4 linked regions of the Homo sapiens genome follow. The main gene of each other region encodes a partner of the protein of the gene in region 4 in a complex. Each region holds a gene or a part of one and is shown on either strand. Other genes may lie near its edges. The genes, in order: SRRM2, CWC15, SF3B2 and ARMC7.

Region 1 (7,407 bases), on a different chromosome or scaffold from region 4:
GGGCAGGTCCCGCTCTAGAACACCTGCCAGGCGGAGATCACGATCCAGAACTCCCACCAGGCGTAGGTCTCGGTCTAGAACACCAGCCCGGAGGGGCAGGTCTCGGTCTAGAACACCTGCTAGGCGCAGATCTAGGACCCGATCACCAGTACGACGCAGGTCTCGTAGTAGATCACCAGCCAGGAGAAGTGGCAGGTCACGCTCTAGAACCCCAGCTAGACGTGGCCGCTCACGCTCCAGAACCCCAGCCAGACGTGGCCGCTCACGCTCTAGAACCCCAGCTAGACGCAGTGGTCGCTCACGCTCCAGAACACCAGCCAGGAGAGGGAGGTCTCGGTCTAGGACACCAAGACGAGGAAGATCCCGCAGTAGAAGCTTAGTTAGACGTGGAAGATCTCACTCTAGAACACCTCAAAGAAGAGGCAGATCTGGCTCATCTTCAGAGCGGAAAAACAAATCCAGAACATCTCAAAGAAGAAGCAGGTCCAATTCAAGCCCAGAAATGAAGAAATCTCGCATTTCTTCAAGGCGGAGCAGGTCTCTCTCTTCACCACGGTCCAAAGCAAAATCTCGCTTGTCTTTGAGGCGCAGCCTTTCAGGGTCTTCCCCATGCCCTAAACAAAAGTCACAGACACCACCCAGGCGCAGTCGCTCTGGATCCTCCCAACCTAAAGCTAAATCTAGAACGCCACCCAGACGCAGTCGCTCCAGTTCTTCTCCGCCACCTAAACAGAAATCTAAGACACCATCAAGACAAAGTCATTCCAGTTCATCTCCTCATCCTAAAGTGAAATCTGGAACACCACCGAGGCAAGGGTCCATAACAAGTCCCCAGGCCAATGAGCAATCTGTAACGCCACAGAGACGGAGCTGTTTTGAATCATCACCTGACCCTGAGTTGAAATCTAGGACCCCTTCTAGACATAGCTGCTCAGGGTCCTCTCCTCCTAGAGTGAAATCTAGCACACCTCCCAGACAGAGCCCATCTAGGTCATCATCTCCACAACCCAAAGTGAAGGCAATAATATCACCAAGACAAAGAAGCCATTCTGGCTCCTCTTCTCCAAGTCCTAGTAGGGTGACGTCGAGAACAACTCCACGGCGAAGCAGATCAGTATCTCCCTGCTCCAATGTGGAATCCAGATTGTTGCCAAGATACAGTCATTCTGGGTCCTCCTCACCAGATACCAAAGTGAAACCTGAAACACCGCCAAGACAAAGTCACTCAGGGTCTATTTCACCATACCCCAAAGTAAAGGCCCAAACTCCACCGGGGCCAAGTCTTTCTGGATCAAAGTCACCATGTCCCCAAGAGAAGTCTAAAGACTCACTAGTTCAAAGTTGCCCTGGATCCCTCTCTCTCTGTGCAGGAGTAAAATCTAGCACACCACCAGGCGAGAGCTATTTTGGTGTCTCATCTCTGCAACTGAAAGGACAATCTCAAACTTCACCAGACCACAGATCTGATACTTCAAGTCCAGAAGTGAGACAGAGTCATTCAGAATCACCATCTCTGCAGAGCAAATCTCAAACATCACCTAAGGGAGGTCGGTCCAGGTCTTCATCTCCAGTCACTGAGCTGGCATCCAGATCTCCAATAAGACAAGATAGAGGTGAGTTCTCAGCGAGTCCTATGTTGAAATCTGGAATGTCTCCTGAGCAGAGCAGGTTCCAGTCTGACTCTTCTTCATATCCTACAGTGGACTCGAATTCTCTCTTGGGGCAGAGTAGATTGGAGACTGCTGAATCAAAAGAGAAAATGGCCTTACCCCCTCAGGAGGATGCTACTGCATCACCTCCTAGACAGAAAGACAAATTTAGTCCCTTTCCAGTACAGGATAGGCCTGAGTCTTCACTGGTATTCAAAGACACACTTAGAACCCCGCCAAGGGAAAGAAGTGGTGCTGGGTCATCTCCAGAAACAAAAGAGCAAAATAGTGCATTGCCTACGTCAAGCCAAGATGAAGAGTTAATGGAGGTGGTAGAGAAGTCTGAAGAACCCGCAGGCCAAATCCTGTCTCATTTGTCTTCAGAACTTAAAGAAATGTCCACAAGTAACTTTGAATCATCTCCTGAAGTAGAAGAAAGGCCTGCTGTGTCTTTGACTCTTGATCAGAGCCAGTCACAGGCTTCTTTGGAAGCAGTAGAAGTCCCTTCAATGGCCTCATCTTGGGGTGGGCCACATTTTTCTCCAGAACATAAAGAACTGTCTAACTCCCCACTCAGGGAGAACAGCTTTGGATCACCTTTAGAATTTAGAAACTCAGGCCCACTTGGTACAGAAATGAATACTGGATTTTCTTCTGAGGTTAAAGAAGATTTGAATGGACCGTTTCTTAATCAGCTGGAAACAGATCCATCTCTAGACATGAAAGAACAATCGACAAGATCCTCTGGACACAGCAGTTCTGAGTTATCCCCAGATGCAGTGGAAAAGGCAGGGATGTCTTCAAATCAGAGCATCTCTTCACCTGTGCTTGATGCTGTACCCAGAACACCCTCGAGAGAAAGAAGTAGTTCTGCATCTTCTCCTGAAATGAAAGATGGTTTACCCAGAACTCCATCAAGGAGAAGCAGGTCTGGGTCTTCTCCAGGACTTAGAGATGGGTCTGGGACTCCCTCGAGGCACAGCCTGTCTGGGTCCTCTCCTGGAATGAAAGATATACCTAGAACGCCATCTAGAGGGAGAAGCGAATGTGATTCTTCCCCAGAACCGAAAGCTTTGCCTCAGACTCCTAGGCCGAGGAGTCGTTCTCCATCATCCCCAGAGCTCAACAACAAGTGTCTTACCCCCCAGAGAGAAAGAAGCGGGTCAGAATCATCAGTTGATCAGAAAACTGTGGCTCGGACTCCCCTGGGGCAGAGAAGTCGTTCGGGATCCTCTCAAGAACTTGATGTGAAACCCAGTGCATCCCCTCAGGAAAGAAGTGAGTCAGACTCTTCTCCAGATTCTAAAGCCAAGACAAGAACCCCACTTCGGCAGAGGAGTCGGTCTGGATCATCTCCAGAGGTTGACAGCAAATCTCGACTATCCCCTCGGCGCAGTAGGTCTGGTTCCTCCCCTGAAGTGAAAGATAAGCCAAGAGCAGCACCCAGGGCACAGAGTGGTTCTGATTCCTCTCCTGAACCTAAAGCTCCAGCCCCTCGGGCCCTTCCCAGACGAAGCAGATCAGGTTCATCAAGCAAAGGCAGAGGCCCTTCTCCTGAAGGAAGCAGCAGTACCGAGTCCTCTCCTGAACATCCGCCCAAATCCAGAACTGCTCGCAGAGGTTCCAGGTCATCACCAGAGCCCAAGACCAAGTCTCGTACACCACCTCGACGTCGCAGCTCTCGATCATCTCCGGAGCTAACAAGGAAGGCCAGACTGTCCCGTAGAAGCCGCTCTGCCTCATCCTCACCAGAAACTCGCTCTAGAACTCCCCCAAGGCACCGGAGAAGTCCCTCAGTGTCTTCCCCGGAGCCAGCCGAAAAATCGAGGTCTTCACGCCGACGGCGCTCAGCTTCATCTCCACGCACTAAGACAACCTCAAGGAGAGGCCGCTCTCCTTCGCCAAAGCCTCGTGGACTCCAGAGGTCCCGTTCCCGCTCAAGGAGAGAGAAAACAAGAACAACCCGACGTCGAGATAGGTCTGGATCTTCTCAGTCAACCTCTCGGCGAAGACAGCGGAGCCGGTCAAGGTCGCGGGTTACTCGGCGGCGGAGGGGAGGCTCTGGTTATCACTCAAGGTCACCTGCCCGGCAGGAAAGTTCCCGGACCTCCTCTCGACGCCGAAGAGGCCGCTCTCGGACACCCCCAACCAGTCGGAAGCGTTCTCGCTCACGCACATCACCAGCCCCGTGGAAACGCTCTAGATCTCGAGCCTCTCCAGCCACTCACCGGCGATCCAGGTCCAGAACCCCCCTGATAAGCCGACGTAGGTCCAGATCTCGAACTTCACCAGTCAGCCGGAGACGGTCAAGGTCCAGGACTTCAGTGACTCGACGAAGATCCCGGTCAAGAGCATCCCCAGTGAGCAGAAGGCGATCCAGATCCAGAACGCCACCAGTAACCCGCCGTCGTTCAAGGTCTAGAACGCCAACAACACGCCGCCGCTCCCGTTCTAGAACTCCACCAGTGACTCGCAGAAGGTCCAGATCCAGGACTCCACCAGTAACCAGGAGGCGATCTCGAAGCAGAACTTCGCCTATCACTCGCAGAAGATCAAGATCCAGAACATCTCCGGTCACCCGAAGGAGATCTCGATCTCGCACATCTCCAGTAACTCGAAGAAGGTCCCGCTCTCGAACCTCACCAGTGACACGCCGCCGCTCTAGGTCCCGGACACCTCCAGCTATTCGGCGCCGCTCTAGATCTCGAACGCCACTGTTACCACGCAAACGTTCTCGAAGTCGCTCACCACTTGCTATCCGCCGCCGCTCCAGATCCCGTACTCCACGAACAGCTCGGGGTAAACGGTCCTTAACAAGATCTCCTCCAGCCATCCGCAGGCGTTCTGCATCTGGAAGTAGTTCTGATCGTTCACGATCTGCTACTCCTCCAGCAACAAGAAATCATTCTGGTTCACGGACACCTCCAGTAGCACTCAACAGTTCCAGAATGAGCTGCTTCAGTCGTCCTAGCATGTCCCCAACACCTCTTGATCGCTGCAGATCACCTGGAATGCTTGAACCCCTTGGCAGCTCTAGAACACCCATGTCTGTCCTGCAGCAAGCCGGCGGCTCCATGATGGATGGTCCAGGTCCCCGAATACCTGACCACCAGAGAACATCTGTGCCAGAAAATCATGCTCAGTCCAGGATTGCACTTGCCCTGACAGCTATCAGTCTTGGCACCGCTCGGCCTCCTCCGTCCATGTCTGCTGCTGGCCTTGCTGCAAGAATGTCCCAGGTTCCAGCCCCGGTGCCTCTCATGAGTCTCAGAACCGCACCAGCAGCCAACCTTGCCAGCAGGATTCCTGCAGCCTCTGCGGCAGCCATGAACCTAGCCAGCGCCAGGACACCTGCCATTCCAACAGCAGTGAACCTGGCTGACTCTCGAACGCCAGCTGCAGCAGCGGCCATGAACTTGGCCAGCCCCAGAACAGCGGTGGCACCTTCGGCTGTGAACCTGGCTGACCCTCGCACTCCCACAGCCCCAGCTGTGAACCTAGCAGGGGCCAGAACCCCAGCTGCCTTGGCAGCTCTGAGTCTCACAGGCTCTGGCACACCACCAACTGCTGCAAACTATCCCTCCAGCTCCAGAACACCACAGGCTCCAGCCTCTGCAAACCTGGTGGGTCCTCGGTCTGCACATGCCACAGCTCCTGTGAATATTGCCGGCTCCAGAACCGCCGCAGCCTTGGCCCCCGCGAGCCTCACCAGTGCTAGGATGGCTCCAGCATTGTCTGGTGCAAACCTCACCAGCCCCAGGGTGCCCCTTTCTGCCTACGAGCGTGTCAGTGGCAGAACCTCACCACCGCTCCTTGACCGAGCTAGGTCCAGAACACCACCGTCTGCCCCAAGCCAATCTAGGATGACCTCTGAACGGGCTCCCTCCCCTTCCTCTAGAATGGGCCAGGCTCCTTCACAGTCTCTTCTCCCTCCAGCACAGGATCAGCCGAGGTCTCCTGTGCCTTCTGCTTTTTCAGACCAATCCCGTTGTTTGATTGCCCAGACCACCCCTGTAGCAGGGTCTCAGTCCCTTTCCTCTGGGGCAGTGGCAACGACCACGTCCTCTGCTGGTGATCACAATGGCATGCTCTCTGTCCCTGCCCCTGGGGTGCCCCACTCTGATGTGGGGGAGCCACCTGCCTCTACTGGGGCCCAGCAGCCTTCTGCATTAGCCGCCCTGCAGCCAGCAAAGGAGCGGCGGAGTTCCTCCTCGTCGTCGTCGTCCTCTAGCTCCTCCTCTTCTTCATCATCGTCGTCGTCGTCCTCCTCCTCCTCTGGCTCCAGTTCTAGTGACTCAGAGGGCTCTAGCCTTCCTGTGCAACCTGAGGTGGCACTGAAGAGGTGAGGGAGCTTGACTTTTAGAAATCTTCAGTGGGGGAGGTATTGGGGATGGGTTGGGGAGTGGGGAGGGAGAAACCATGTCACAGGTGCTTGGCTCTTGGAGGAGGTATGGGGACCTTGACCCTCAAGCTGGGGGTAGAAGAGAATGCTGGGGCAGGGGGCGGAGGGAGGAGGAATGGGACAGATAAAAGTCTCCGAAGGTTCATTCTCTAGAGGATAATGATAAGTTTTCCGTCTCTACAGAGGACAGAACTAGAGGAAATGGACTTAATTTTACAGCAGGAGGGATGGCAGTTAGACCTCAAGAGGAACTCCCTGGGCTGGAAGGATCTTCAGAGGTCATCCCATCCCTCTCCCTGCCTCCAGGCAGGACGGCCCCTTCCCCAGCCAACCTGCACTCACAGGGGCCTCCCCAAGCTGCGGCTCTCCGAGGAAGGAGACTACCCAGCTTCAGCTTCCACACCTGAGCCCAGAGGCCTTATTCCTCCATCAGGGACATTCTTGAGGTTTAACCTTGATCCCTTATGCTGCGGGCCCCAGCCTGTTGCTTCTGTTAGCAGAGGTTGGGTCAGCTCGCACCACTGCTCTCCAGAGAATTGCTGGCTCACGTGGCTCGGAGAGCTCCCAGCGCCTTTCTCAGGCACCCCTCCCCCCACTGCCGTTCCTCCAGGCCAAGGAAGGTAGGGTTGGGGCTGGGGCAGCTTGTCTCCTTGTGACACTCCTCTCCTCCCACAGGGTCCCCAGCCCCACCCCAGCCCCAAAGGAGGCTGTTCGAGAGGGACGTCCTCCGGAGCCAACCCCAGCCAAACGGAAGAGGCGCTCTAGCAGTTCCAGTTCCAGCTCCTCCTCTTCATCTTCCTCCTCCTCCTCCTCCTCCTCTTCTTCCTCCTCCTCTTCCTCTTCTTCTTCTTCCTCCTCATCTTCCTCCTCCTCGTCGTCTTCCTCCCCTTCCCCTGCTAAGCCTGGCCCTCAGGCCTTGCCCAAACCTGCAAGCCCCAAGAAGCCACCCCCTGGCGAGCGGAGGTGAGTGCTGTCTTGCCTGAGTTGAAAGGTGGGTGGGGGAGTGACTTGTCCAGAGAAGGGGCCCTGGGGTGTGAGCTCCCCGCTGGGTGTCTCACGTGGCCTTGGGCATCTGGTTGTGGGGGAGGAGGCACTTGCTCTCCTCTCCCCATGCTCGTTGCACCCTGTTCTGGCGAAGGGCTGCGCCATCCACAGCGGCGCTCAGGCCAGGACCAGGGGGTCCTTGGTTTCTTCCTCTCCCTCCCTCAACACATAGCCTGTTCCCAGGGTTCTAGCTTTGTCTCCCTGTTGCTACTGCCAGGGCTCTGGTCTGGCCACCATCATCTTCTCCCGACTCTGTCCACAGCCTCCTCCCTGTCTCCCCGTCTCCACGCCATTCTCTTCCACATGTAGCCA
Region 2 (8,053 bases), on a different chromosome or scaffold from region 4:
ACAGTGATTCAACTGGAAGAGATGGAGAGAGTTGGATTAGAGTTGTGATTGGATTAGGGCTGATTTAATTAGGATTTTGATGGTACATATAAAGCCTGATCTCATATGATTTTTTTCATTTAGAGATTCTCTCCCGAAAGAAAGTCATATTTCTGGGTCTTATCATATCTTCATTTGAAATCGGGATTTCAGACTAATACAATGTAAGTTACTTTTTTCCTTTAAAATATAAAATAGATTAAGGCAATAACTTTTTACAACAGAACACAATTTTTTCCTCTTAAAACTAATTCATTCTTTCATTCGTCCATTCATTCTTTCTTTTATTCACTCATATGGAAACTGTTTATTGGGTAGCTATTGGTGCCAGGCATTGTTTTAATGCTTGACCTATATTACTGAGCAAAACAAAGATCTCTGCCCTTTTAGAACTTATATTCTACATGGGAGAAGTAGAGAAAGAGACAATAAATGTAACATAACTAAATTATATAGGGTCATGGAAGATGATAAATGCCATGTAATTATATATAATATAATTTTAAAAGATAAAAAGAAGAAAGAGGGGAAGGGAGATACGGAGTACAGAATGTTAGGGGACAGAGAGGGAGAACAGTTGCAATTTTAAGTAGAGATGCCCAAGGTTCGTTGGACTCCATTTGAACAAAGACTTGAGTAAGACAGGAAAGAATAGCCTTGGCAGAGAAAATAGCTAGTGTGAGGGCCCTAAAGCAGGAGCAGCTGTGTGCGTGTCCAAGCAACAATATGAAGGAGGTAGCCATGAAAAGCATGAGCAAGTGATGAGGTCAAAGAGGTAGGGGAAAGGGTAGACCATAGAAAACTTTGGAAACCATTGTGAACACCTTGGCTTTTACTGTGAGGGTAATGGGGGACCAATGCCCCCCGCTGTCTGACTGGATCCCCTTTTCTCTCAATCCCATCCAACTATGTTATTAATTTTTTTAATTGTTGCCAATCGGATGCTGTAATGTGATAATCCATTTTTAGTTTACTTTCATTTTCCTCATTAGAAGGTTGAGTGTCTTTCATGTTTATTGACTTGTCTATTTGAAATTGCTTTTTCTGAATGGCCTGCTTATATCTTTTGTCCATTTTTTAATTGGGTAATTTGTGATTTTTATATTATGTGTATCACTAGCAGTAGCAGTAATCCTTTATATGTTATAGGCATTACAAAATTTATTTGCGAATCTAGAATTTATTGACTTGTTTTTGGCATCTACAGCTATAAAATTAATTGTTGGATAAATGAATTTTTAAAAGTATTTCTTTTAAAGCTCTTAAGGTGTTCTGCTTTGATTGAAAGGTCTTTCCAAATTCTAGGTTCTATAAATAGTTTCTTAAATTTTCTTCTTAGGTTTTTATGGTTTCTATTTTCCCTTTTAGGTGTTGATTTTGTTTAAGCTTTAAACTGGAATTCCTATGCTACTCCTGCCATAAAAATAGAAAGTTTTGCAATCAAGGGCCAAACTACATCCCTTTCACATTTAATTAAATGCTACCTTTGGCATACTAAAATGAAAGAGCCTTTTTTAAGGTTAAGATATACTATACCATGTCCAAAAGCTGATAAAAATGATCTGAAAGGGATGGCCTCATAGATCATAAGAAAGAGAAAATATATAGCAAAATGCCAGCCACTAAGAAACCTGGAGGAATTAGGACCCAGAGCACAAGGGAGAGTGTGGGTCACCTCATCTCCAGTAATAATGAGAATCTGAGGATACAGGAATAGCCAAAGGCAGCTCGATAGATCTGCGGAAAAAAGGAGATGAGAAGTCCTTGTTTAAGAGCTTCTGTTTTCTCAGAGAACTGAGAAGATCTACTGCCAGGAAAGAGAATGCAGAGGGAAAAGGAGGTGAAAGAGGCATGTAGACTTGAAGAAAGGGGAATGTGGGAAATTATATTATTGTAGAGGGGGAAAATAAACAATTAGGAGAGCATAAGAGGACTGGCAGGCAGAATTAAGGGCCAAACTAGATTTTGTGGTAACAGGTTTAACATAAGAATTCTTGGGAGGTTATATGATTTTTGCCAGCTAGGTTAACTGATCAGATGAATTTCAAGATTTTAGTAAACTTAAGTTTCTTTTTCTTAATACTTTCAAACCATTTAAGTCAAAAGCTTTAGTTTCATTTTCTTATTAGCACTTTCATTTAAGTCAAAAGCTTTTAATTTTGTGGATTGACTATATTGTATATTGGTGTTAATGAAATTATAGGGTGGCTATTTATCACCACTGGCAACCAAAAGATTAGGTTAGTGGGCTGGGAGTTAAATCAATGAAGTGATTCACTCCAGGCTAATGAGGACAGTTGGAACATAAAAACTGTGGGTATCTCCTATAATTGTGTTACCATCTTGCCATTGTTACGTCATTCCTCTACTTCATAGTGCATCATTCATTCATTCATTCATTCAACAAATACTTACTCAGCACCTATTATGTGCCAGGCACTGTTCTATATGCAGAGGATACACCCAGTGAACAAGAGAGACAAGGTTCCTGCTTTCCTGGAACTTATGTTCTAATATAGGAAGATAGACAATAATAATAAAAATAATATTAATAATAATAATAATAGCTAACATTTATTTAGCAAGTACTATTTGCTGAGACAGTTCTAAGCACTTTACAAGTATTAATTCACTTAATCCTTAGAGTAGTATTACAAGTTAGGGACTAGAATTACGCCCATTTTACACGTGAGGAAACTGAAAGCACAGAAAGGGAAAATGACTTGCCTAAGGTTATAGAGCTAGGAAAGGGCAGAACTGGAATTTAGAACAAAAATGGGCAGGCTGAAGATCCTTTTCTCTTAATGACCTTCGCATGCTGTCTCCTGAGAGACATGGAAATAAAAAATGAATAGAATAGACTCTGGTAATGTTTAGTGGTATGAAAAATGAAACAGGGTGATGTGATGGTGTACAAACACAAGTGTTGGAGGGGTGGGGGTAGGAAAACCTCACTGTGATACCTGAGACATGAAGGATGGTGATACAGTTACTTTGGGGCACAGGCAACAGAGAAAAGCTAGTGCAAAGGCCCTAAAATAGAAGGAATCTTGCCCTGTTTTATAAAACAGAAATGCCCACTTGGCTGTGTCTAGAGCTTAGTGCGTAAGCGAGTGACTGATTGGAAGTGAAGTCTGGAAGGTAGGCAGGAACCAGACTCCGTGGGGTCTCAGGTCACATTAAGAAATGTGATTTTTATTCTAAGTGCAGTGAAATTGTACACAGGATAGTAACACCATTTTATTAATTTTAAAAGATCACTCTCTTGGCTATATGCAACACTGACTGTAGGATAAAAGATGACGCAGGAAGATATAATAGGAAGCAATTACAATCCAGGTAGGAGATGGTGTTGGCAAAGGCAAGGGTAGTGGCAGTAGAATAAAATTGCGGGTGAGTTTTAAAAGTAGAATTGTTAAGACCTGTAAATGAACCGTATGTGAAGAGTGAATGAAAAGGAATTTAAGTAGGCACTCCGGGATTTTGGTTTGAGTAACTAGCATGATGATCGCGTCTTTTAGTGAGACTTGTTAAGACTGGAGGAGGGATACCTTCGGTAAGAAAAATCAGGATTTTCATCTTGAACTCTATGACTGAAAGGGCTTTTTCTGCTTTTCTTTCTTCATTAAAAAGTTGCAAAGAATTTAGGGGTAAGAAAGCATTTAAATATTCAATTTTGTGAGTTCCTTACATTTTAAACTAAGTTGGGGAAGTTGAATTTTCATTTGTTTAACAAATATTAATTGAGCAGCTACTATACGTCAAGGTCTATGTGATGAGATACCAAGATGAGCTAAACAACCAAGATCTCTATTCTCAGAATTTGTTTTTATGGAAGGGAGGAGAGACGACTGGTAGGTTTTTGGTTTTCGGGTTTTCTACTTTTCGTTGTCTTATTAAAACTTAACACTTAAGTAGCCATCTTAATAATTACATCTTGTGCTCCTGGTAGTTGGGCCCACCATTGTAAACGCTCTCGTAAATACTGACATCTCCCCTCCCACTAAAACTAACGTTTTTTAAATAAGAAATTTTAGCAAACATTACGAATACAACCTTTGCTTTGAAGTGTTAATATTTTTGCAGGAATGGTACCTTTGTAAAGATCGTGGTTGCCCCGTACATATTTGTTCTTTCTTCATATCCAATTAAATGAAAACACTAGTTTTTCCGAAGCCCAACTCTCTAGGTTTGTTGGTTCTAGCTCAGGAGAAAGGATGGAAGCAGGAGTCGTTGGATTTAAACAGTTTGGTGTAATCCTTTTCCACGCTCTCTCCCGCTAGCCGGGGACGTGGTGTCGGCTACCCGGGGCTTTCCGTCCACGCAGTACCGGAATGAAGGAGTCTGGGAGGGGGTCGGGGACGGAAAAGACGGAAGAGACATTAAGTAATTGGTTCTTGAAGGTATAAAATGAGGTTTAGGGTCTACTCTAAGGCACTGATTTCAAACGCCCGCCCCCTGGGCCGCTTCGGCCCCGCCCCTTAGTGCCGTTACGCCGACTTCCACTTCGGCCACTGCGGATTGGTCGTTGCTTCCGCCCCCGAAGCGCTTGGATTTTGCTTCCGGGTCGTAGGCGCTAGCTCTGGGCGCAGAGGTTTCTGGGAGCCAAGAGTGGTAATGGCGTCTGTATGATCTTCGGAGCCTGCTGCATCGGACCTCGGCCAGTGTGAGCGGCAAGAGGATAGGAGATTATCTTTCTTATCGCGATGGGACGGGAAAGGGCAGTTGGGGTCGGAGTCGGCGGCAGAGTGCAGAGCGCGGGCGGTGGAGGCCCTGGAGCAGCGGGCTAGGGGCGGAACCGAGTGCCTGTCAGGCGCGTCTGGAGCTCTTGGGCCCGCCGAGGAGATCGCAGCGTACAGGCAGCTCGCCTACTGCGTAAAGCGAACCCCAGGTCCTCCCTTCACTACCCTTCGCACCCCTGCAGTGCTGGGCACGGGTGAAGAGGCAGCGAGTTTCTGGTTATAGCCAAAGACTAGCTCACGGGAGGCCGGAGTGATAATTCCGTGGGTGTGTGGGAAGGGGCGGCGCCCCCAGCGCCAGATAACCCTGTTTTCTTCTTTGTATACATGTCTCTACCCTTTTTGAAAGTTGAGAGAATTAGCATCGCCCCCCCCCCAAAAAATCCTCCCAATTCGCCCACCCTCCCCACACACTTGCTTTTCCGACACTAACAGGGTTTTAGTGACTGCATCTGCTGCACAGTATTCTTGTGACTGCTCCAAGCAGAAAGTAACTTGAGGAATGAGTCCCTGATTTTTGGCATCAGAATCCTCTGGGGGTGAGGTTCCTGTTTTTTTTGAACAGGCCTTAAATTATAACCCACAAACGATCTAATTTATAGTATGATGCCTGTTGTAGGAGAAAATTGGCTCAACAAACGGTTGTTTAAGAATTTTTTTCTGTGTAACTGTCATTGAAGTTTAACACACTTTTCTCTGGGACATTTAGTAACTTTGTCAGTGATATTTTTTGTTTGTTTTTAGCTTTTGTTTCTACTAGCCTATTTGCTATTGTGTGAAGTTTAGATAAAATGCAAACCTTACAGAGTCTGGTAGAGTAAGGTTGAGTTGGAAATTTTTAAAACTCAGTCATGGCAGTACTGTATTTTACTAGGGTTTTGACATGTCAAGTGTCATAATTCTTATAATCTATGAGGAATATCTCCATTCCACAGATGACAAAGTTAAGCCAGGTGACTTGCTCAAGCCCATATAGTCAGAAGGAGAATAGGGATGCAAACTCAGATCTTCATGACAGAATTTTTTGTACTAAGGCAAGCCTGAGAAGCCATATTCCTTGTACAGCCTAAGCCTCATAATTTGTTTTCTTGAAAACTTTTGTTTAAGAAGATTAAGCAGGTTTTGGGGAATGAGTTTTAGAACTTATTTTACCAGTATGGATATTGATTAATACTCTATAAAATGAGTGTTTGTAATGTTGGAAATAACTTGATTATATTTTTCTTCAAAGCATAAAAGATGACAACAGCAGCCAGGCCAACCTTTGAACCTGCCAGAGGTGGAAGGGGAAAAGGAGAAGGTGATTTGAGCCAACTTTCAAAGCAGTATTCAAGCAGAGACCTACCCTCTCATACAAAGATAAAATACAGGTAGTAAGACTTTCTTTTTTTATTGTTCACAAAACAAGACCAGATCTGTTAAATGGCATGGTCATGATATAGTAGTATGTTTGAGTTATGTCACTTATCTATTTTCATAGGAATAGAATGCAATAGGATGTTTAACACTAAAATTCTGCTGTGATTTTAAAATGTGAAATTCCTACTAACCAGGAATTTTCATATGTAGATAGAACAATAAATAATAGAAATAATAATGCCTCAGAGTATGCACTATGAGCACCAGTCAGTATATTAAAAGTATTACTGTTAAGTTCTGAGTTGATATAATCCTAATAAAAATTAAAGACATTTTAATCACTGTAAAGCCTTATTATAGGAAAATATGTGATTGAATTTGGACTTCTTGAAATATTGGGAACATCACAAGAGTGGCTGTTAGTAACCTTCAGATTAAATTATGATCTTGTCTACTTCCCTTTTTTCTGCTTGAAGGACAAAGTCTCATTCCTGAATTGTCTTCCATTACTACAGTCTCTGTGTGTGTGTGTGTGTGTGTTTAAGTAACATTTTTGCCCTGGTTTGTTTCTACTTTAGACAGACTACTCAGGATGCCCCTGAAGAGGTTCGTAACCGTGACTTCAGGAGAGAGTTGGAAGAAAGAGAGAGAGCTGCTGCAAGAGAGAAAAATAGGGATCGTCCAACCCGAGGTACCAACACTATCCAAGACATTTGTCTCATAAAATTATGTTGTTGATAGTTTTTCTTTATGTAGCAATTGGAAAATGTTAACCATTTGTTTACTTTTACAGATTGATGTGAGCTGTACTACTTTCTTAGGTCATTAGAGATAATAACAACAAATATTTACCAAAGGCTTATTTGCCCAGGCACTGTGGATGTGAGTTCACTGTGGATAATGCTTTTAATGTGGGCTCCTTGTGCTCACAGGTCCCTAAAACATTTTAAGAAATGAAGTATTTGTTTTACTAAGTTAAATGATTTTTGTTTCCCCCCAGAACATACAACCTCCTCTTCAGTGTCAAAAAAGCCACGGTTAGACCAGATTCCTGCCGCCAACCTTGATGCAGATGACCCTCTAACAGATGTATGTTTTGTTTCCTCCTTTCATCTCTAATAATTGATTTACCATGCTATTCTAAAATACTTGTTATGTCTTTGCTTTAAGAAGTGACATATATTTATGTTTAGTTACTGTTATTCAAATATAGCCCTGACCTCAGTGCTAAACTTTATAGTTGATTTTAAAATCAAAAGTATTATTTTGTGGGACTTTAAGAACAAGTTTGATCTCTAGAGAACCAAATATGGAAGGAATCTATAAAAGGATATGCTTTCCCCCAAAATAATGTCCTGTACTAAACTACTGCACTACTGCTGTGTTACACACCTCTCCAGGGCACTCTTCATACTGGGCTTCCTATAAACAGTGCCCTCTAGAGTTGTACCTGGAGGCCTTTCCATATTAGATATGTCCCCTTCTATAAGTGCAATACACTTAATGGTTCCCTCTGTGCTTAGGGAGGGAAGTAATCTAAGCAGAAGGTTTTTAAGGATTAGCACATCAGTTAATGTTAAAATTCTGTGGGACCCTAGAGCCTATAATCAATTTGCAGTTTTCTACATACAGGACAGTGAAAAACCTGAGTGGCATCCAATGAGTAATATCTAACTATGTATACATATCAGCAGTTAATTCTAGAGTTAATTGATGGAGTTACTCATAATAGTTAAAACAGGAAACCTAATTTCAACTGAAATTTAATGATTATTCATTTGAAATTATTTTCTTCTGAGAATTTAGCACACTTTTTTGCACTTTTGAGTATCTTTGCTGCTAGCTTAAAGTTGTTTTGAGCTACATAAAATTGTTTTGACTTTCTTAGGGTGATACGTTGTACATATGTACTGTGT
Region 3 (7,263 bases), on a different chromosome or scaffold from region 4:
AGCCTTAGTTCTAGGACCCAGCTTTCTCTAAGGCTCCACTGCCCCTTCAGGGACCTAATGAGTCCAAGGCCAGGGCTGCCACCTGCCCTACCTGCTTGGCACGCTCCTCCTGCTGCATCAGCAATGCCGCCTGCTGCTGAGCCAACTTCAGCCGCTCCTCCTCTGACAGTGCCACTGGCTCACCCACACGGAGAGGAGGCGGGGGCCCCAAATTTGGTGGGTGGGCCATAGGAAAGCCAAGGCCAAGGCCTGGTGGAGGTGGTGGGGGTGGCGGAGGAGGCTGCAGAGGGGGGAGTCCCAAAGGTGGTGGTGGCATGGGAATTCCAGGGAGCTGTGGAGAAAATATGATCATAAAACTAGGAAGCATTTATCTACTCATTCTGCAAATATCTGGGGGATCTACTTTGAGTCAGGAGCTGGAATTCTAAGTCAAATGATACATAGTTACCACTCCATAAGAGAGAATGCTCCACAGCTCTATAAAGATATGAGAATGTTAACTTCTGGCACCAACCAAAGGAAGCTATCCACTCTCTCCAAAAAGATATCCTGAATATAGATTCTGCATACAATTCTAGGAGACTCAAAGACGCCTCTGAGGCCATCTAGGGACTCCTCATCCTACACACAGAGATCAGTAGATGCCAGGTCAGAGCCACTGCTTTAGAGAAAATGAGGCAAATCCTGGATCAGAAGGAACATGGAAATTGAGAGGACTTACATAAACAGGAACCACTGTATCTGGGCAATGCAAACCCCAATGACTACTAAACGCAAGGGGTGTGAAATCAAATCAGGGAGCCCTCGATGTCACACAAAAGAACATGGGAACTGTGCCTGGGGCAGGCAAAGAAAAGGGTGATTGCTTCCAGCTGGGTAAGGACAAGTCAGTCTTCCTTGTATTCAAGCTGTATTTTTTTTTTTTTTTTGAGACAAGAGTCTCGCTCTGTCACCCAGGCTGGAGTGCAATGGCGCAATCTCAGCTCACTGCAACCTCCGCTTTCCAGGTTCAAGCAATTCTCGTGCCTCAGCCTCCCAAGTAGCTGGGATTACAGGCACCTGCCACCATGCCCGGCTAATTTTTATATTTTTAGTAGAGACAAGGTTTCACCATGTTGGCCAGGTTGGTCTTGAACTCGTGACCTCAAGTGATCGCCCACCTCAGCCTCCCAAAGTGCTGGGATTACAGGCATGAGCCACCATGCCCTGCCTCTTTTTTTTTTTTTTGAGACAGTCTCGCTCTATTGCCCAGGCTGGAGTGCAGGGGCTTGATCTTGGCTCACTGCACCGTCCACCTCCAGGGTTCAAGTGATTCTCCTGCCTCAGCCTCCCAAGTAGCTGGGATTACAGACATGTGCTACCACGCCCAGCTAATTTTTGTATTTTTAGTAGAGAGAGTTTCGCCATGTTGGCCAGGCTAGTTTCAAACTCCTGACCGCAGGCGATCCACCTGCCTTGGCCTCTCAAAGTGCTGGGATTACAGACATGAGCCACCACGCCCTGCCTCTTTTTTTTTTTTCCTATTTTTTGGTTTAATTTTATTTTATTGTAAGTTTTCGGGTACATGTGCAGTATGCGCAGGTTTGTTACATAGGTAAATGTGTGCTATGGTGGTTTGCTGCACCTATCAACCCACTGCCTAAGTATTAAGCCTGGCATGCATTAGCTATTTTTTCTGACACTCTCCCAGCCCCTCCCCCATCACCTCCCCCCTTTTTTTTTTAAAGAAGCAAAGTCTCATTCTGTCACCCAGGATGGAGTACATGGAGTACAGTGGCGCAACCAGAGCTCACTGCAGCCTCCAACCCCAGGGCTCCAGCAATCCTTGAGCCTCTTTATAGGGACTTTATAGGCGCGTGCCACCGTGCCCAGCTAATTTTTAAAATTTTTTGTAGTAACAGAGTCTCACTATGTTGCCCAGGCTGGTCTCGAACTCCTGGCTTCAAGCGATCGTCCCATCTAAGCATCCCGAAGTGGTGGGATTACAGGCATGCGCCACTGCACCCGGCCACAAGCTGCTTTTGGAGAAGCAGACAGTGGAAAAGGAGGCAAGTGTCAGCATCAAAGAGAGAACTGAAGAGCTCACAATTCTGTCATGGCAGTACCTCCCTGCCCAACAACTGCAAGTGAGAGGAAGGGCTACCCTGAACATATGGAATCTTTTTTTTTCCCCACTCAGGTCAGGCGAGTAATGTGCAAGGGTGTCACATCTCACACATGCACGTGAACACCCAATCATCATGCTCATGAACTACAAAAGGATCAGCAGATGGAATCTTAAAAAACAGAAGAATCTCCCTACCTGTGCCGACATGGGAGGTGGAGCGGCTTTGTCCCCATCTTCCCCTCTCAAAACCGGCCGATTCAGCACGATGCCAGTCTGCAAAAGAGAAAGGACTCTAGGTCAGTCCAAAACTAGCTGTTTCACTAAACGACGTTCGCTCCCAATTCATTCAACAAAACGTACCCAGTGCCTGTCTGCCAGCGCTCTGGCTGGGCACTGAAGAGGACCAAGATGGATACAAGAAATTACAACTAAGCTGGCAAAGGCAAGAACAAGCTAAAAAGGGCAAGCCTCCGCCTTGCTGTGCCGAGATAAAGAAAGAATGAAGACCGAGCCGTGATGGGGTATATAAGGTCTCCTGGAGAAGCTCGGCCTATCCTGACGTCCCGCCGCCAACACCTACCTGGCGGGTGTAGCTCTGCAGCCGCTCCACCAGCTCCTCGCGATTACCTGCAGGGCAAAGTACACGATCAATGGGGCAGGCCAGCCCGGCCAGGTCAGGCCCCAGCGGCCTGCCTCCGCCCCTCGCACCCGAGTCTCCCGGGTAACCAGGCTCCGCTTCTCCGCAGGCCCGTAAAGGCCCCTCGACTTCCTGTGTTCCTCACCCTGGATCGGAGCTCCGATCTCTGCCAACTTGGCCTGAAGCTCCTGGGCAGCCCAGGCGCCATAGTGGCCTGGAGGTGGCGGCGGCGGCAGCTGCAATTCTGCTTTGGGAGGCTCGGGATGCTCCGTCGCCATCTTAGCCGCAGGAAGGCGCGCGACCAACCCGGAAGCTGGGGCCAGCCTCAGGGCCCACTTGCCGGAACTTCCGGTGGCGCCGTATGCCACGTCCTCTCTGGTTGGGAGGCGACGCGCACTCAGGCACACCCGCTGCCGTGCGCTGGGCGACGGGATTCGCCGCAGACGCACCTTTCTCTAGTGGCCCCTCGGCGGTCTGGTCGCGAGGCCTCCTGGGAGTTGTAGTGCGCAGGTCTCGGTCTCTGCGGGCCCTGCGCGCCGCTACGGCCCCGAAGGCCGGCGGCGGGCCGGAGGGCGGGGCTGCGAGGAGGGCTGGCACTTCCCCGAGGGAGTGTTTTCTGCGCCTCACCTGCGGGAGCGAAGGCTCTCAAGCTTTCCGGCCCGGCCCTCCGGTCAGATCCTCGAACGCTTACGCTCCCAGGGAGTCCCGAGAGACTCATTTCCCCGGCGGCCCCGCGTTGCGGGCGCCAAGCGGGAGGCTGGAGCCGATGCCTGGGATAAAACAGTGTCTGATTGTCTGCCCGCCCACCCCCGGCCCAGGCCCGGATGAATGGGCTGAAAGGGGATCCAAGCCGGGAGAGCAGCAGGCCTGCCCGGGCTGAGCTCCAGCTGCCGACCTGGGGGAAGGGCGACTCTAAAGCCCCCTTTTCCACCTTCCAGGCCGGCTCAAATGTCGTCTTCTCCACTAAGCCTCCTCCCGCTTTCCTTTCCTTTCTTAGAGCTCCCATAATACGTTCGAATCTCCACCGTTTGTTAAGTCTTTCTTGCCCTTTCTTCCTACCTCTATCCCAAAAATGTGAGCAGGGACTTGATCATTTTCAGTCTCGCATCGCCTGGCGTTCAAGAGGCGCCCAATAAATGATTACTGGAAAAAAAGGAACAATGTTTCTGGTGAAAGCATTTGTGTCTTTTTTAGTCTCAAAAATAAACTCAGGCCCTTTTCCCTCAGCCGCACCTGCACTGGGGGCCCCACCTTGCCTCCCACTCCCCACCCCAACTCCCCTTGGCCTTTGGAGACAGAGGCAGAGACTGGCAGGGATTCTTGCCTGCCTAGCATCCACCTCTCCCTGTCCCACACCATCAATTCAGTTTCTCTCCCCACCTCTGCCACTAGCTCTGCCCTCTCACCAACAGCTAGCCTGTGTGTGTTTTTTATGTGTGTTGAGAAAGGGAGTGGGGAGACTCAAGTGAAATGGTCTCATTTTCCCCCTACACATCCCCTTCAGATCTTTTCTCCAGCTCCATTTTGCCAACTGCCCCCAGTGGAGAAGAAGCTGGGAACAGGGAAAAAAAAAGAATGGGGCACCAGGTCGGGGGAAGGTGAGGTTTGGGAGAGACAGGGAAAAGGACTGGGTTGAGAAAGGTTGGCTCACATCCTAGCACTGGGTGGGAAGTCCTCTTCCTCCTACCCAAACCTTGACCTTTCCCCTTTCCATCAATATCACTATGGGAGGCTCCTGCAGCCACACTCCCAGAGGAGAAGCCAAACCCGGAAAGGACAGTAACGAAGACAGAAAAACAGCGCCCTTCCCTCCAGCTTGTCAGCCCACTCAGGCAGAACCTTTCTAGCCCAAAGGAAGGCTCTTCTGCTCCCTGTAACTGGAGAGCCCAGGGCAGGTCATCTGAGGCTGAGGGCCCCAAGGCATGTGTAGGTGCTAGGGAAGGGGGCGGGGTCTCTGAGGCAGGATAAACTAAAGGCTGATGGAGTCTCATTTTATTTATTTATTTTTTATTTATTTATTTATTTTTTTTTTTTTTTGAGACAGAGTCTCAGTTGCCCAGGCTGGAGTGCAGTGGCTCTATCTGCGCTCACTGCAAGCTCCGCCTCCTGGGTTCACGCCATTCTCCTGCCTCAGCCTCCCGAGTAGCTGCGACTACAGGCGCCCGCCACCACGCCCAGCTAATTTATTTGTATTTTTTTTAGTAGAGACGGGGTTTCACCGCGTTAGCCAGGATGGTCTCGATCTCCTGACCTCGTGATCCGCCCGCCTCAGCCTCCCAAAGTGCTGGGATTACAGGCGTGAGCCACTGCACCCGGCCTGGAGTCTCATTTTATAACAGCCCTGGGAAGGAGGCAAGGTCTCAAGATCCTCCTCCCCCACGATATTGTACACAGCGGAAGATTGATGGGCAGAGAAGGTGACATGCCCAAGAGGCCAAACTGGGGCCACCAGCAGTCCTTCTGACTCTGAGAGTCCCTATTTCCTCCTCCTCAACCATAACAAGGACCCTCACACTATTTCCTATGTGGGCCTAGAAGGGCGTATCCAGCCCCTTCCAGTCCCACCTTTGGGTGGCTACCCAGCTCCAGGATCCTTGCTTTACCAGGCCCAGAGCAAAATAGAAAGCAGGTGTGCAGGCCAGCCACAGAACTCAGTGTAGGGCTCTTGATGTCTGGCATGGCTTTGGGAGGTGCTGCTGCCCAGCTCCCAGGTGATGGGAGCTGAGGACTAAGAAGTTCACATGGAGCCTTCGTGTGTATTATCTCTGCTACCTCAGAACAGCTTCCCATTTTACAGCTGGAAGCAATAGGGCTTAGGGAGTTGCCTCTTGACTCTGGGATTTAAGAGCAAACCAGGATTGAACTTGGGTTCTTTGATGCCTGGTGGCAGGTGCCTAGGCAGGGGTCCCAGCCTCACTATAGCTCTGGTCAGGAGTGAGTGGGTCTGGAGTCCTAGTGAGGAAAAATGGGTGAGCAGCCAGAAGCTACATCAGAGGGTATGGGGGACACGCTGGAAGGGAAGGGGGCATGTGGGCAGAGATGGGACCAGACAAGGCTGGAGCACTGCTTCTCTACTGGAGGAGGACAGAGGATGTGAGTACCTGCACGTGTACCAGCATCTGGCTCACCCAGAAGCCCACGTATGACCGGCGGTGCCCCAGAATACCCAGCAATGCAGGAGTATCCAGACACCTTCCCGGCCTCAGTTTCCCTGCCTGAGTGAGAGAAGGGAGCTGGCCACATTAGTGTCCAACTCTGCAAGGTTGCCAGAGTAAGACAACTGCATCTGAAGATGCCACCCAGAGACTGTTCACGGCAGCCAGCGGGCAAGCCAGGGAACCACCCCCCCTCCCCCGTCCCCCTTCCTTTCCCCTCTCTCCCCTCTCCCCTACTTGCTCGTGGCCTGGCCCCGCCCCTCGCCTTCCTCCGGTGTGCGATGGGGGGCGGGGGGCGGGGGGCGGGCAGAGCCGGGAGGAGCGAGCCTAGCGGACGCTGCCACCTGATCCCATCCAGGCGCTGAGAGGCAAGCCACCGGCACTCGGCGCGCAGGGCCCCGGGCACCCTCGGACCCCGTGCGGATTTCGAGACAAGGGTCCAGAGATAGCGGCGGCCGCCCCCAACCCGGGCCAGAGGCAGAGCCCAGGCGTGCGGTGTGAGTACTGCAGTGGCCGGCATGGGGTTGGAGGGGTGGGAGTGGACCAGACCGGGATGGGGGCCGAGAGGCGGGCGGGAGAGTGTCTTGGGGGCCTAGTGGTTGGAAAGCATGAGGAGGGGGGCGCTCTACCCCTGGAAAGTGGGAGAAGATAGGGTGAGCGGGCCAATCTGGCCTATCCCCTATGGTGATCAGATCCCACTGGCAGGATCCCTGGGGGATGCTGGGATGAAATTGAGGGAGTGGGAGGTATGGTGCGGGTGGGCAGTAATGGAGACAGGAGGATGGAGGGAATTCCAAGGCAGGGATGATGCGGGGGTGGATGAGAGAGAGAGGAGGCTGGGGGGCCAGGGGCAGACCTGGTGCAGGCTGGGGGGTGGGGGAGGAGGAAAAAGAGGGAGGTGGAAAGATTTGCTCTCCCAGGCCAGTACTTTGCAGACCCCCTCAGCCCTTCGCCCCTCCTCTGGAGCACCCTGGGTCAGCGTCCCTCAACACTGGGCTGTCCCATCCCTCAAGTCAGGACAGGATGGAGTCTCCGGGCCATCCAGCAGTCAGGTCCAAGTGGTCCAGTCCAGGGCACCCCTTCCTCTAAGTGCATCGGTTTCAGCTCTAGAGCTCAGAGGAGACAGAGGAGAAAGGGCTCCTTTAGGAGGGTGGGCACCCCGGCCCATTTTCAAAGCTTTGGTCGGCTCTACTATTTCTTTGGTTCCCTGGAGAAAAGCTAGCAATTTGCAAAACTGGGCAGCAGCGTGAGGTAGATTGTTCTGACTAAAATTAGCACTGACATTCTGATGAGCCTGGGCGTCCTGACCTGCCTGGGATAGCTGGGAGAACTCTCTCTATGGAGAAGACACCAGGCACAATGGG
Region 4 (7,407 bases):
GGTTTCTTTATCCCCTTTATTTCCTATAATCCAGAAATTGGGTTGAATGTCTTGATAGGATCAAATAACACATTTTTTATTTTATTTTATTTTATTTTATTTTATTTTTTGAGATGGAGTCTTGCTCTGTCGCCCAGGCTGGAATGCGGTGGTGCAATCTCAGCTCACTGCAACCTCTGCCTCCTGGGTTCAGACAGTTCTCCTGCTTCAGCCTCCCGGGTATGGGATTATAGGCGCCCGCCACCACGCCCGGCTAATTTTTGTGTTTTTAGTAGAGACGGGGTTTCACCGTGTTGGCCAGGCTGGTCTCAAACTCCTGACCTCAGGTGATCCGCCCGCCTCAGCCTCCCAAAGTGCTGGGGTTACAGTCGTGAGCCACCACACCTGGCCCAACTAACACATTTTTAAAAATACTTTTTATTTATTTATTTTTTTTTTTGAGATGGAGTCTTGCTCTGTCGCCCAGGCTGGAGTGCAGTGGCGCGATCTCGGCTCACTGCAAGCTCCGCCTCCCGGGTTCACGCCATTCTCCTGCCTCAGCCTCCCAAGTAGCTGGGATTACAGGCGCCCCCCCACCAGGCCCGGCTAATTTTTTGTACTTTTAGTAGAGACGGGGTTTCACCGTGTTAGCCAGGATGGGCTCAATCTCCTGACCTCGTGATCTGCCCGCCTCGGCCTCCCAAAGTGCTGGGATTACAGGCGTGAGCCACCGCGCCCGGCAAAAATACATTATGATAAGTGTGATTCAAATTTTTCAAAGACCATCCAGGTCTCCTCTAAAGAGGAGAGGAGATTCCTGGGGCCAGACTACAAATGAGGGTCTTCTCTCCATGAGGGGGCTCCAGCACATGTGTGTGCGGATTCACACCCCCACAGACAGCTGCCCCTTGGCCACTCCCTGGGTTTGGAAGTGCACACACCAACAGTGGCATTCACTCCTGGGAGTCAGGATCCAAGAGAGAGGCCCATGCAGCCGTGGGAGCAGGTTTAGGGCCTGGAGCTCCAGGTGCAGGGGAAGGACGGCTGTGGGCTTTGGGTGAGCTCCCTGGACTTACTGCCCCACAGAGGACCAGAGTGGGGCCTGCTAAAGCCAAGCCAGGGCAGGAGCCCCAGTTGCCCAGGTCCCCGAGTGATGCCAGCTCCTCTAGAAGATTATTATGCCAAACAAATATTCTAAAAAGTTGGTCTCTAAAACGTCCTCCGTCCCGTCCCTTTTCGTGCCTCTGCCCCCACAGCTGCTGCAGTCTGAACGGTGACGGTGGCCCCTGCAGAAGCATGTGGCTAAATCTCCACCAGGGGGCGATAGAGCTCCTCCAAATCAAGCTGCTGCCCCTGGAGAAAAATTGGCGGAAGTCACAGAGCAGTCCCCACCAAAAGTGTTTACCAAGTGGAGTCTTTCCTGCTGGCGTTTCCTCAGGGTCAGGAAGCAACTTTCCCAGGACAGGGGCACCCTGAGGTCCGGGTCCACTGAGCTATGGGGGCGGCGTGGGCCTGGGCTGGGTTCTTGCCATCCTGGGCAGCTTCCCGGCGTGGGTGACTGAGCCCGGGTCCTGGAGTCCGCGGTCCCAGCGTCTCCACTTCTCAGCTGATTCCTAGAAGCTGAGTCCCGTCCCTTCTCCGAGCGTGGTTTCCTCTCCCGCCTTGCCTGCGTCGCAAGCAGTTGTGGGAGCAGAAGTGTGTCTGTGCATCTGTGTCTCTGTGCAGGTATTTTAGAATTGTTAGGATCATTATCACCAGCTTTACTTTTCCCAACCATTTTTTTCCTCCTTTTTTTCTCTTCCTTCTTCTGCCACAGCAAGACCCCCCCGCCCCAAGCACAGTAGCTTTCTCAGCGTCGAATCCCTCCGTGGGACCATGTTGCAATGAAATTTCAACATGCAAATGAAATTTCTCGAAATTTCTCTTGTGTTTATTATGCATGACTGAGAAGGAGAGCCCCCGCGTATTTTCTTACTGCCGTCGTTTCCCTTTCTCTTAGTGTCTCTGCTTGGGGATCCCCGACAGGCACTTATTCTGCTGTTTCTGGAGAAGGCTCTGTGCTGCGCTTTGGAGCTTTGAGTCTTTTATCCGATGTGGCAGCCCTGAGATTGTGATCTCCCTGAGCCAGAGCCAGCCTTACTTCTGTCTGCATGGTTTGAGTGCTTAGGCCTTTTGGCCTAGGGAGGAGGAAAGAAGGGGAAGAAAAGGCAGGAGATCTTCACTTAATAGGTGTGGAGTCCTGGCCATGACTTGGTGCAACACCCCTGAGCAGGGTTGGTTCTGGAAGGACTGGCACAGTGGAGAGCTGAGTCAGATTGCCCATGGCTGTGGCTCGCAGAACCAAAACCAAGCTGGGTATGGTGGCTCACACCTGTAATCCCATTTGGGAGGCCGAGGGGGGTGGATCACTTGAGGTCAGGAGTTCGAGACCAGCCTGGCCAACATGGCAAAACCCCGTCTCTACTAAAAATACAAAAATTAGTTGGGTGTGGTGGCGCACACCTGTAGTCCCAGCTACTCGGAGGCTGAGGCAGAAGAGTTGCTTGAACCAGGAGACAGAGGTTGCAGTGAGCCAAGATCACGCCACTGCACTCCAGCCTGGGTGACAGAGCAAGACTCTGTCTCCATAAAAAAAAAAAGGAACCAAAACCATTGTCTGCTTGGTTGAGCAGGGTGGTTCATACCTGTAATCCCAGCATTCTGGGAGGCTGAAGCAAGAGGATTGCTTGAGCCCCCAGGAGGTCAAGAGCAGCCTGGGCAACATAGCAAAACCCTGTCCCTACAAAAACAAACAAAACAAGTATCTGCTTGTTGGCAGGCAGCACAGTGAGTTGGATGAGAGCTGGGCCCTGGGGTCAGGCAGGCATCTGGGTGTGGGCTCTCTCTCCTCCAATCATCTGTCAGATGGGGACAGTGCCAGTAGCTGCTTCACATCAGTTGAGAGAATTAAATGAAACACCACAGTGCTCTTTTAGGGTTAGTGTCTGCAGCCATAGATAGGATTCCCTTGGTTGCCATCCAAAGACAAATACCCAAAACCCTTTGAGGGTGAGCTGTCGCCCCTTGTCCCAGAGAGGTGAGGTGCGGGATGGGATAACGTCCTATCAAGGGAATCACTCATCTGCTCCAGGAATTCTTACCTTCTGGAAAAACATCACGGAATGACAGGAACACCGATCCTCAGCCTCCCAGAGGGTGCCCAGGCAATGTCAGGTGGGGAGAGCCTGGCTGCAGGCCCGGTGCTGTTGTGCCCCCATCACGGATGGCATTAGCTCACACTTGGGGAGCACCCACTGCATGCCAGGCGCTTGCATCTTGTGCATTGGACATAGTACTAAAGTAGATGTGCTTACACCGCCTTCTTTCCAATCAGGACTCTGAGGCTTAGAGAGGTTCTGTGGGCTGGCCAAAGGTTTAAAGAGTACCAGACCTAGGCCGGGCATGGTGGCTGACGCTTGTAATCCCAGCACTTTGGGAGGCCGAAGTGGGCAGATCACCGGAGGTCGGGAGTTCGAGACCAGCCTGACCAACATGGAGAAACCCCATCTCTACTAAAAATACAATTAGCTGGGTGCGGTGGCACGCGCCTGTAATCCCAGCTACTCAGGAGGCTGAGGCAGGAGAATCGCTTGAACCGAGGAGGTGGAGGTTGAGGTGAGCCAAGATCACGCCATTGCACTCCAGCCTGGGCAACAAGAGTGAAACTCCGTCTCAAAATAAATAAAGAGTACCAGACCTGAGACTTAAACCCAGAGCAGTCAGAGTCTACAAGCTAGTCCCTTGGCCCTTTTCCTGCCCTTAGAGGAGTTCCAATTCCTAGGATTGTGGAGCGAAAGCGAGAAAGGAGTTTACTCCAAATTGCTCATTTTATCAATAAGGAAGCTGCGGTGCAGACAGCTGCCCCTCGTCTGGCTGTCGCAGGCCAGGATGAGAATGCAGGCTTCCTTCCGTCTGTCCCTGCAGCCACCACACTCACAGGTACCCTTCCATGCTGGCTTTGCTGTGGCAGCTCTGAGTGAGGTCTGCTCTTTGGCCCAGCACTTCTGCCTCCTCTCTGAGGGCTGGAAGCTGGATGCTATCCAAACAAATGGATTCGCTCACCCTGCACACTAAGGCCAATTACTGACAAAAATCGCAGTGAGAAAGTGAGGCTTTGTTTTTGTTTTTGGTTTTGGTTTTTTTGAGACAGATTCTCACTCCGTTGCCCAGGTTGGAGTGCAATGGTGCAATCTCGTCTCACTGCAACCTCCGCCTACCTGGTTCAAGCAATTCTCCTGCCTCAGCCTCCTGAGTAGCTGGGATTACAAGCACCCGCCACCACACCCAGCTAATTTTTGTATGTTTAGTAGAGACGGGGTTTCGACATGTTGGCCAGGCTGATCTCGAACTCCTCACCTCAGGTGATCCGCCCGCCTCGGCCTCCCAAAGTGCTGGGATTACAGGCGTGAGCCACTGTGCCCAGCCAAAAGTGAGGCCTTTATTGTGGGGCGACAAGCAAGAAGAATCCGGCAGCTCATGCTTAAGACCCAAATTCCCAGATGGCTTATGGTTAAGGGTGTTCAAAGGCAGGAGGCAGAGGTTACAGACAAAGTTTTAAATCAACACCAGGAGGCTATATATTGGTTTGGCCTAAGAAGGCAGGATGTCTCCAAGGGATGGGGCACAGATCATAGGTGGCTTCAAAGATTTTCTGATTTGTGAGTGGTTAAGGAGGTGAAGCTTTGTCTACAAATTTGGCATCAGCAAAAAAGAATGTTAGCTATAACCTGTGGGCATGTCCTCCAGGCCCCTCAGGGAGTCTAAAGAGTGGTCAGAGTGTAGTTTTCAGTTCCCCTTATCTGAGGTCTCAGTGCCAGGGGAATTGTTTGTTGAGGGTCCAGATTTCTGAAAAGCAACTCAAGGACAGATATTAAGATGTTATCTTTAGGCCGGGTGTGGTGGCTCACACCTGTAATCCCAGCACTTTGGGAGGCTGAGGCGGGTGGATCACTTGAGCTCAGGAGTTCAAGACCAGCCTGGCCAACATGGTGAAACCCCGTCTCTACTAAAAATACAAAATCTAGCTGGGTGTGGTGGCAGGAGCCTGTAATCCCAGCTACTCTGGAAGCTGAGGCAGGAGAATCGCTTGAACCCAGGAGGCAGGCAGAGGTTACAGTGAGCCAAGATCGTGCCACTGCACTCCAGCATGGGCGACAAAGCAAGACTGTCTCAAAAAAAAAAAAAAAACAAAGTTATCTTTAGTTTCTATGGGGAAACCAGACATCCCCTGATTCTGACTTCCTTGGCTATTGTTTTAAGCTAACTATTACCTTCTTGCTTATCGAGTTGCTCACTTGCTTCTCAGGGCTAGCTAGGTGCCTGGAATTTCATGAAGGGACTCAAGATTTTCCTTTATTTCCATGCTTGGGGGCCTGCAGGCCCCTAGAGAAGCCCCTGCTCTCTCTCCATGTCAGCCAGGGCTTCAGTCTGGCCTCAAGTGTTCCCATCAGCGGTGGCAGTGGAACTACAGTGGCAGCAACCACTTGCCAACAGGGGCCTGGCCTCACTCACCGTCGTCTCTGTGTGGCGGTCTCTTTCTCCTGTGGCTTCCTCTCAGTTGCCCGCCGTCGGCACCGCCACAGCCATGAGGAAGGATCCGGCTACAGCGACCGCGGAGAACACGCACGGGTTTTCAAGTCTCTGGCCTCTTTTGTGGCCTCTTGTGGATCTGCCCATTTAGAGCAATTGTAGAACTAGTTTATTGACCCTTTCTGTGCTTCTGGCTGCCTTTTCTGCCCAGGGTCCAGGGCTCCTGTTTGGGTGCTGTTGGGATAAAAGCTGCCTCTCCTGGATGCCCGCCCAGTGCACACCATGTGCTCGCCACACGCCCACCTGAACCAGCCTGTCCACAAGGCCTCTGAATCGGTCATGAACGGCAAGGCCGATGGTTCTAACCCCTTTGTACATATCGGGAACCCCCACCACCAAGTGAGGGCAAGTCCACTGCCTGGGGCTCCCGCTGTTAGTGATAACTGGAGCCAGGACTTCGCCCCTGTCATCCAGGATCCAAATTCTGTGCCCTGGGAACCCAGCTGGCACCAGGCTCAGACTCTAGTCCCTTGTTCTGGCCTCAAACTCCTGGGCTCAAGTGATCCTCCGACCCCAGCCTCCCAAAGTGCTAGGATTACAGGCATGAGCCACTGCACCCAGCCCCAGTGGCAGTTCCTCTATGACACTGGTACACTGGACTGTACACTGGTACACTGGTACACTGGACTGGTACACTGGACTATTCACAGGGGATTATTTGTTCTTGGGTTTTCCTTCAGTGTCTTGAAAATGGCTCCTTCAATTTCAAGTCTGAAGGACAGACAGTACATAGAGTAAGCTACCCTTTGTGTGAGAAGGCAGGGTGGAGATGAACACACCTCTGTGTATGCACTCACGCTGGCAAGACACAAAAGTGTAATAAGGAAATGGGTTAGTACGAGGCAGGGAACAAGGTAGAAGGGACCAGAATGGTGGTGAGACTTCTGAAAATACCCTGTGATACAGTTTTTTCTTTTTTTTTTTTTGAGACGGAGTTTCGCTCTGTCGCCCAGGCTGGAGTGCAGTGGCGCGATCTCGACTCACTGCAAGCTCCGCCTCCCGGGTTCACGCCATTCTCCTGCCTCAGCCTTCCCAGCAGCTGGGACTACAGGCACCCGCTACCACGCCCAGCTAATTTTTTTTGTATTTTTTTTTTTTTTTAGTAGAGACAGGGTTTCACCGTGTTAGCCAGGATGGTCTCGATTTCCTGACCTTGTGATCCGCCTGCCTCGGCCCTCTCAAAGTGCTAGGATTACAGGCGTGAGCCACCACGCCCAGCCTGCTGTGAAGACTTTGACCCTGGGCTGCTTCAGCTCAGCATGGGCGAGTCCCCAGATGTAGCTGTATTTTGAGCTGCCCTTGCCGAGGGCCTGCCCAGCCACCAGGTGCCAGGTGCCAGCTAAGCACTTGTCAGAAGCATCACCTCGTTTTGTTTTGTTTTTGAGATGGAGTCTCGCCCTGTTGACCAGGCTGGAGTGCAGTGGCATGATCTGGGCTCATTGCAACCTCCGCCTCCCAAGTTCAAGCCATTCTCCTGCCTCAGCCTCCCAAGTAGCTGGGACTACAGGTGAGTGCCACCATGCCCAGCTAATTTTTGTATTTTTAGTAGAGATGGAGTTTTGCCATGTTGGCCAGGGTGGTCTTGAACTCCTGACCTCAGGTGATCCACCCTCGGCCTCCCAAAGTGCTGGGATTACAGGCATGAGCCCCCACGCCCGGCCAGCATCACCTCATTTAATCCCTGGGACCATCCTTCAACCTTCCCTTCATGGTCCAGGTTGTCCCTCCCTGCACCAGTGCCCAACATGGCGTGTGAGCTGAGGTCACCCACCTGACCTCCCTGAGTCTCCGGCTTTCTCA

What was found.
Region 1: ARMC7 (region 4) and SRRM2 share a complex: the UniProt entries of both Homo sapiens proteins name them as parts of the minor spliceosome.
Region 2: ARMC7 (region 4) and CWC15 share a complex: the UniProt entries of both Homo sapiens proteins name them as parts of the minor spliceosome.
Region 3: ARMC7 (region 4) and SF3B2 share a complex: the UniProt entries of both Homo sapiens proteins name them as parts of the minor spliceosome.

What each region holds. Positions count from the first base shown.
Region 1 is NC_000016.10:2,762,271-2,769,677, forward strand, and holds part of SRRM2 (serine/arginine repetitive matrix protein 2), read left to right. Parts: coding exon 1-5,991; intron 5,992-6,726; coding exon 6,727-7,014; intron 7,015-7,407. UniProt on the Homo sapiens protein: Required for pre-mRNA splicing as component of the spliceosome. As a component of the minor spliceosome, involved in the splicing of U12-type introns in pre-mRNAs.
Region 2 is NC_000011.10:94,970,150-94,978,202, reverse strand, and holds the start of CWC15 (spliceosome-associated protein CWC15 homolog), read left to right. Parts: upstream 1-4,646; 5' UTR 4,647-4,705; exon of another isoform or gene 4,706-4,930; intron 4,931-6,009; 5' UTR 6,010-6,017; coding exon 6,018-6,148; intron 6,149-6,715; coding exon 6,716-6,828; intron 6,829-7,137; coding exon 7,138-7,226; intron 7,227-8,053. UniProt on the Homo sapiens protein: Involved in pre-mRNA splicing as component of the spliceosome. Component of the PRP19-CDC5L complex that forms an integral part of the spliceosome and is required for activating pre-mRNA splicing.
Region 3 is NC_000011.10:66,048,144-66,055,406, reverse strand, and holds the start of SF3B2 (splicing factor 3B subunit 2), read right to left. Parts: upstream 3,044-7,263; 5' UTR 3,023-3,043; coding exon 2,890-3,022; intron 2,735-2,889; coding exon 2,688-2,734; intron 2,381-2,687; coding exon 2,303-2,380; intron 2,264-2,302; exon of another isoform or gene 2,179-2,263; intron 332-2,178; coding exon 92-331; intron 1-91. UniProt on the Homo sapiens protein: Component of the 17S U2 SnRNP complex of the spliceosome, a large ribonucleoprotein complex that removes introns from transcribed pre-mRNAs.
Region 4 is NC_000017.11:75,112,934-75,120,340, forward strand, and holds part of ARMC7 (armadillo repeat-containing protein 7), read left to right. Parts: intron 1-1,235; coding exon of another isoform or gene 1,236-1,249; exon of another isoform or gene 1,250-1,795; coding exon of another isoform or gene 1,796-1,866; exon of another isoform or gene 1,867-1,887; intron 1,888-7,407. UniProt on the Homo sapiens protein: As a component of the minor spliceosome, involved in the splicing of U12-type introns in pre-mRNAs.